Linked DNA regions of Homo sapiens: region 2 is linked to region 1. The links come from fine-mapping of genetic effects on gene expression. A gene starts in region 1. The other region holds a variant in brackets. All regions are shown on one strand. Distances are between the middles of the regions. Region 1 holds the start of PELI1 (pellino E3 ubiquitin protein ligase 1). Region 2 has its middle 67 kb from the start of MIR4433A.

Region 1 (2,914 bases):
AGCATTTTTTGAATGAGTGTATAATTATATAGTCTGTAGATATAAGGATTTCTGATCTTGAGACTCTCTGAAAGCCTTGCTCCAAAAGTGTGTCTGATTCCTAAGCATTAATCTTTTTCTTCCAGGGTGTGGGGTTCTAGGTAGGTGGAGAAGGAAAACAAAAGCGCTCAGGACGCGTTGCCTTTAGCTCTCCGGAGAGCCAGTAATGTGTCCTGCCTTTCTCCACCCTCCTCCCTACCACCTTTCCACACCTGGGTGCCCAAGATGGGTGTAGACTTAGCTGACCAGCCCAACAACATACTCATACCTTGGTTCAGACTTCTCTTATTACCAAACTAAAGTTGGCCAATACACATAAACAATTTTCAACTTGTCTTTTGAACGTATACTTTATGAAATTTGTATGTCTTAAAAATTGTAGGCCTTAAAATGAACGAACCCGGATTCTTTTATAGTAATCAAGTAAAATATAGGGGTCTTAATTCTGTACTTTGCCTTTGCTAATCTTAAAGTTAGATGTGACTAACTGAGCAAAGTAATTAATTACGGGACTTTGATAGTGGTGATATTCCTAAGTTTTATAACCTAATTGTTCAATTACTGGAAACAACTACATTTCGACAAGTCTTAGGTAAAGAAAATTGAATTTAGCCGGAGAAGATTCAATTGAGGGAAGTGAGGGACAGAGGTATTTGTGATTTAGGGTTTGTGGAAGATAAATTACGCAGCAGGGAAGACTGAAATATGGAGAGAAAGTCAGACCTCACTGGGTACTTATGACTGGTAAGGCTAGGAGTTGGAGGTGGAGAAAAGTAGGAAGGACCGTCTAAGGGTTGGATCCCCAACAACACCATAATACAAGACCGTCCTTGTTCAGCCAACAGCAGCACTGAACACGTTCGCTAAGTGTGTCGGTGACCATGGTAACGGTGGGAGGGGGCGGTCCAAACCTCGCCCTCGAGCATGCTCAGTGCAGAGCGAGCCTGGTAGGGTGCTGGACAACAATGAATCCCTTTTTTCTTCAACCGGAGAACTACAATTCCCAAGAGCCTTCTCGGTGCGGCGACACCGCCTTCCGCTGTGGCCCTGCCCGGTCCCCTCCCTCAGGCCCCGCCCCCCGGCTAGACCCCTCCCCTCCTTGCGAGTGTATGTCAGTGACCCAGAGGCGGTGTGAGGCGGAGGGACCGTCGGGGGGCGCCGCCGCCGCCTCCACTAGCAGCAGCGGCAGCAGCCCTAGTCCCGCGGTGCGGTCGAATTGGTCCCCAGCCCTCCGGGAGCGCACCACAAAGCAGCCCCAACGCCTCTCCCTGCGTCCGCGGCTCCTCAGCGCTCGGCTCCGTGGTCAACTTCCCCTCGCTGGGCTCGGCTGGCGGGCGCGGAGGGCAGCGGCGGAACGGCGGGCTGTCTGCTCGCGCTCCCCGCGCACAACACTTCACCCTCTCGCCTCGGGTCTCGGGGGCCGCTCTGGGATCCCGGCCACCAGCAATTGTCCGGTAAGTGTGACCGCGGGGCGCCGCGGGATGGATGGCGGCGGGGCCGCCGAGGGGCGCGGGGAGGGCGGGCGCGCAACTTCCTCGGCGGCTTCCCCGGCGGCCAGCAGCCGGCTCTCCCCGCCCGCCTGCGCGCCCCCGCTGCGGCGGGGAGCGGAGTTTGCGGCGCCTGCATCCCGCGCCCTGGCTCGAGGAAGCGCCTTTGTCAGGAACCGGCCCTACGCGGCCTCCCCCTCCGCCCGGGAGCGGGGCGCGCGGCGGCCAACTCCGAGCCCCGCGCCTGGCTGGCCGCGCGCTCCGGCTGCGAGAGGGGAGCTCTGCGGGTGGCGGGGAGGAGAGGGAAATGGGAGAAACAAAAGGGGCGGTGGGTTTCCCTTTTGTTTGTGCGGATCTGATAACTTCTTTTCCTCCCTTACATAACGCAGACTTCAAGTTAGTCATTCTTTTTATTGTTATGATTGTTGTCATCATCTCTGCGCGTCTTTCACATTTCCTTTCATCTTTGGATCTCAGAGCATTTTAAACACGCTAATTAATTTCACCCCCGGGTCCCCTAGGAAACAAGTTAATACGCCCGTTTCCCTAAGTGGGTAAACTGAGGTCGTGAAAAGCTCTCAAATTGATGGATACGCTTGATCTTCTACCGCGCCTCGTGTCTGAGTATATGAAAGCGTTTATGAGGAAGAACCCGTTCTCCAAAGCCCCGTGGAAAAGTTAAAGATGCTCATTTTACTTACAGGTTAACTGAAGTCCAAAAGATGTCTAGGTAATTGTTACGTAGTTCAAACCATAATTCTTCTTACATAGTGTTTGAATCTTAAAACCTCTAAAGACTTAGTGAAAAATGCTCCGAGTAGGGAAATTAATGTAAATCATAAACTCACGTCACCATCTACTTTTATTTTTGTACGTGCAGGTCTGTTAGAGGCAAGAGAGCAAGAAGGGGACAGAGGGCAGAGGTTTTTTAAAAATGTACATTTAACAGATTTTAATCACTACACACAAGGAAATGTGCCTTGGTTTTAACAGCACCAACAATATTCCTGTCGTTTAGTCATCAAACAGTATATCAACAAATGTTATTGAGAACTTTATTCATAAGGTGCTGGTTGTGCTAAAAACTGAAGCTTTATATATAAGAAAAGGTCATCTGTTTCGGTTCACAGGCTCTTTACTTTTTCTTACTCTGCAAAATGTTACTTTGTTTTCATTGCACATGATCTTTTGTTTCAGAAATGGCATTGTCCTTTACTGTGTCGAATATGTATTACTCTTACACTTAAGGATAAATGAATTTATTATTAAGTTTTCATAATAGGGTGAATTTAAAATATTTTAATTGTGGTAAAGGTTCACTTTATTCAGTTCTGTTTCAGTTTACGATGCGTTTTCTTTATAGCCAACAAAATATTTTCTGAGTGATA
Region 2 (2,914 bases), 130 kb before region 1:
CCAGGTGAGGACACAGTGAGAAGAAGGCCATCTGCAAGCAGGAATGGGTCCTCACTAGGAATCAAATCTGCTGGCACCTTGATCTTGAACTTCCCAGCTTCCAGAACTGTGAGAAATAAATGTCTGTTTTTAAGCTACCCAGTCTATGGTGTTTTATTATAGAACACCATAATTCTATAATAAATTATAGAATTTATTATAGAATTATAATTATTATAAATATTTAATTAATAAATATAAATTATTATTATAGAATAAATTCTACAATTTATTATAGAATTATAGAATTTGCCAACATGGCAAAACCCCATCTCTACTAAAACTACATAAAATTAGCCAGGCATGGTGTAGCCATGCACCTGCATGACTACAGAATTCTATAATTCTATGATAAAATATAGACTATGACTAAGACAGGAGCCTTGGTGGTCTGCCAAGAGAAAGGTGGTCATGGTTGGGGAGGGGACAGCAACACAGCAGTGAGGGTTTAAGATGAGAGAGAAACAGAACAGGAGGAAAGGATGCTGACCAGGGGCCTGTGAGGGGTCACTGTGCTAAGAACCCAGCCGAGGTCAGAGGCCCCAGGTTGTGTAGAACCCAAACCACAAGAGTGTGTATTCCTCTAGCCTCCTTCAGGAGTCCTTGAGTAGGAAGAAAGAGGGAAAATGATTCACAGAGAAAACTGATTCACAGAGAAAGGTTTGCAAGACTGACATAGCAAAAGGAAGGGGAAAGTGGGTTGAGGTTGCTGGCAAGAGTCACAGAAGACACACACATGTATACATATACATACATATATAATTATATAGAATTGTATGTGTATATATAATTACATATGTGTGTATATATATGCTAGAGAGAGAGAGAAGGATTGATCACAAATGTAGAACAGGTCTGAGTTGCTAAAGTGGAGTGGAGTTGAAATTTTTTTTGATAAGGCTCTTATCAAAGAATGCTTCTGGAAGATTAATCTTTTTTTCTGGAAGGAAATAGAGGTAAGTGCACCACTTAGCAGGCTGATGTAATGGTCCAGATCAGAATTAGTAAACACACAGAATGCAAGTTGCAGTGACCCACCTGTGCCTCTGGCAATCGTCACCAATGGACAACCACACTCTGCTGCTGAACTCAAAATCTTTCTCTACACAGTGCTCGGGCAGCCACTACCAATTAGTTGGAATTGGCCCAGGAGATGGAAACTGCTTTCAGTTCTGGTCTGGATGAAAGGTAATAAGCCTGGCCTAGGTTTTTAGCAGCAGGCATGAAGTGACTGCAATGTGGAGCCCACCACAGGGTAAGAGAAAGAACATCTCACAGCCAGCCAGCCTCTGATCACTGGGTTCCCAGAACCCTGAGAGAGCTGAGGGTGGTGCCAGAAACGATCTCTGGACTCAGAATTGCTCTGGGGCACACCCAGAAGGCCAGTTGCTACTGAAGCACCCGAGCTCACCTGGACAGTCTCTCAGAATCCCAGGTCGGTTAGCCTTGGCTGGCTTCGGGAAGTGGAGAATCAGACAAACCACAGATCTCATGACTCAGTGATCTTCCATAAGGGAGTAGATGAGTGTTTCTGGCACTGGCCTGGTAGGAGCTCGTGGGAGGATGCCAATAATTCC[C/A]TTTAGTTACTCTGGGTCATGGTGTCCTACTAGCTAGAGCCAGCCTGAGGCCACAAGGAAACAGAAGCAGCTTTGGGCCCATCTCTGAGAAATACCTTTCACTTTATCTAATTCCCTTTCTTTTGGGTGAGCAGCTTCAGCCAGCAGGAAGCTTCATTTCCTTCCTCTCTGCTGGAACTCCTTGGTTCTGGGCCTTTGTTTTTATCAGCCATTGCAAAACTGATCTCTGATTGCACAATATGGGCAATGACATGACAGTGACTGAGACTCATGAATCCCATTAAGCCCAGTGGTGTTAATAGATCAGATATTCATAAAGAGATAGCAGTATTAATCCCTGACTTGTCACCACAACTTCCTTCAGACTGTCATTAATATTAAAAAGAATAAGTCATCGATATGTCATGCTGGTCTGCAGTTGTTTGGGGCCTTTTGTTGTTACATAATGAATGGGTTCCATGTGAAGGCCTCCGGGAGTGGTTTTTGCTGTTTATCTCTTTGTTCATGTTTGTTTATTTGTTTCTCCTTAGGCACTTATCAGAAGAACCAAGAACTGAAGATACAGGAAAAAACTTCTGCAAGTTCAATGTCCAAAAGAGACTAGGATTTAATTGAAACATACAGATCTAGAAAATCAAAGTCTGATTAAAAGAGTTAACAAAAGAAAGCACAACACTAAGGGGTGTGTGTGTGTGAGAGAGAGAGAGAGAGAGAGAGAGAGACAGCAGGGCAGGAGAGAGGGTAAGAGAGCAAAACAGCTTTGCAGGGGCAGGTGATGGTGTGATTTGAAATGCCTATGAGATGCACATCTGGCAGGTCTGAAGCCTGCAAGTAACACATGGAGCAAGTTACCCATCACCCTGGCATTTCCTCAAGTCTAAGCTATATTAGCGTCCAGCCTCCCACACTTTTTTGTGCATCCTAACCTAATTAGTTAAAGATTACATTCTCCTGTGTGAGTGGCAGAGTCTCTTGGGTACAGTCTTTTGGGCTAGGACCCAATAGATAGCAGTGGCTGTGTCATTTTAGATAGCAGTGGGAATTTGGTAATTGATTTAAAAACAAGTCGGCCGGGCTCGGTGGCTCACGTCTGTAATCCTAGCACCTTGGGAGGCCGAGGTGGGCGGATTGCCTGAGCTCAGAAGTTTGAAACCAGCCTGGGCAACACAGTGAAACCCCGTCTCTACTAAAAATACAAAAACATTAGCCGGGCGTGGTGGCATGTGCCTGTAGTCCCAGCTACTCAGGAAGCTGAGGCAGGAGAATTGCTTGCACCTGGGAGGTAGAGGTTGCAGTGA

What was found. PIP is the estimated chance that this variant, and not a neighbour inherited with it, causes the effect.
Region 2: its variant is fine-mapped to the expression of PELI1 in whole blood (INTERVAL, PIP above 0.99).

The regions. Positions count from the first base shown.
Region 1 is chr2:64,142,660-64,145,573 of GRCh38, reverse strand. It overlaps PELI1 (pellino E3 ubiquitin protein ligase 1), which reads left to right and starts at 1,154. Exons shown (of 7, transcript NM_020651.4): 1 at 1,154-1,493. RefSeq lists silencers at 927-986, 1,077-1,266, 1,347-1,416, 1,557-1,626, 1,637-1,706.
Region 2 is chr2:64,272,584-64,275,497 of GRCh38, reverse strand. No RefSeq gene overlaps it. Among named protein-coding and RNA genes, the nearest start is that of MIR4433A, 67 kb to the left of the region's middle. RefSeq lists an enhancer at 2,762-2,914. The variant C/A (reference allele first, on the strand shown) is at 1,617.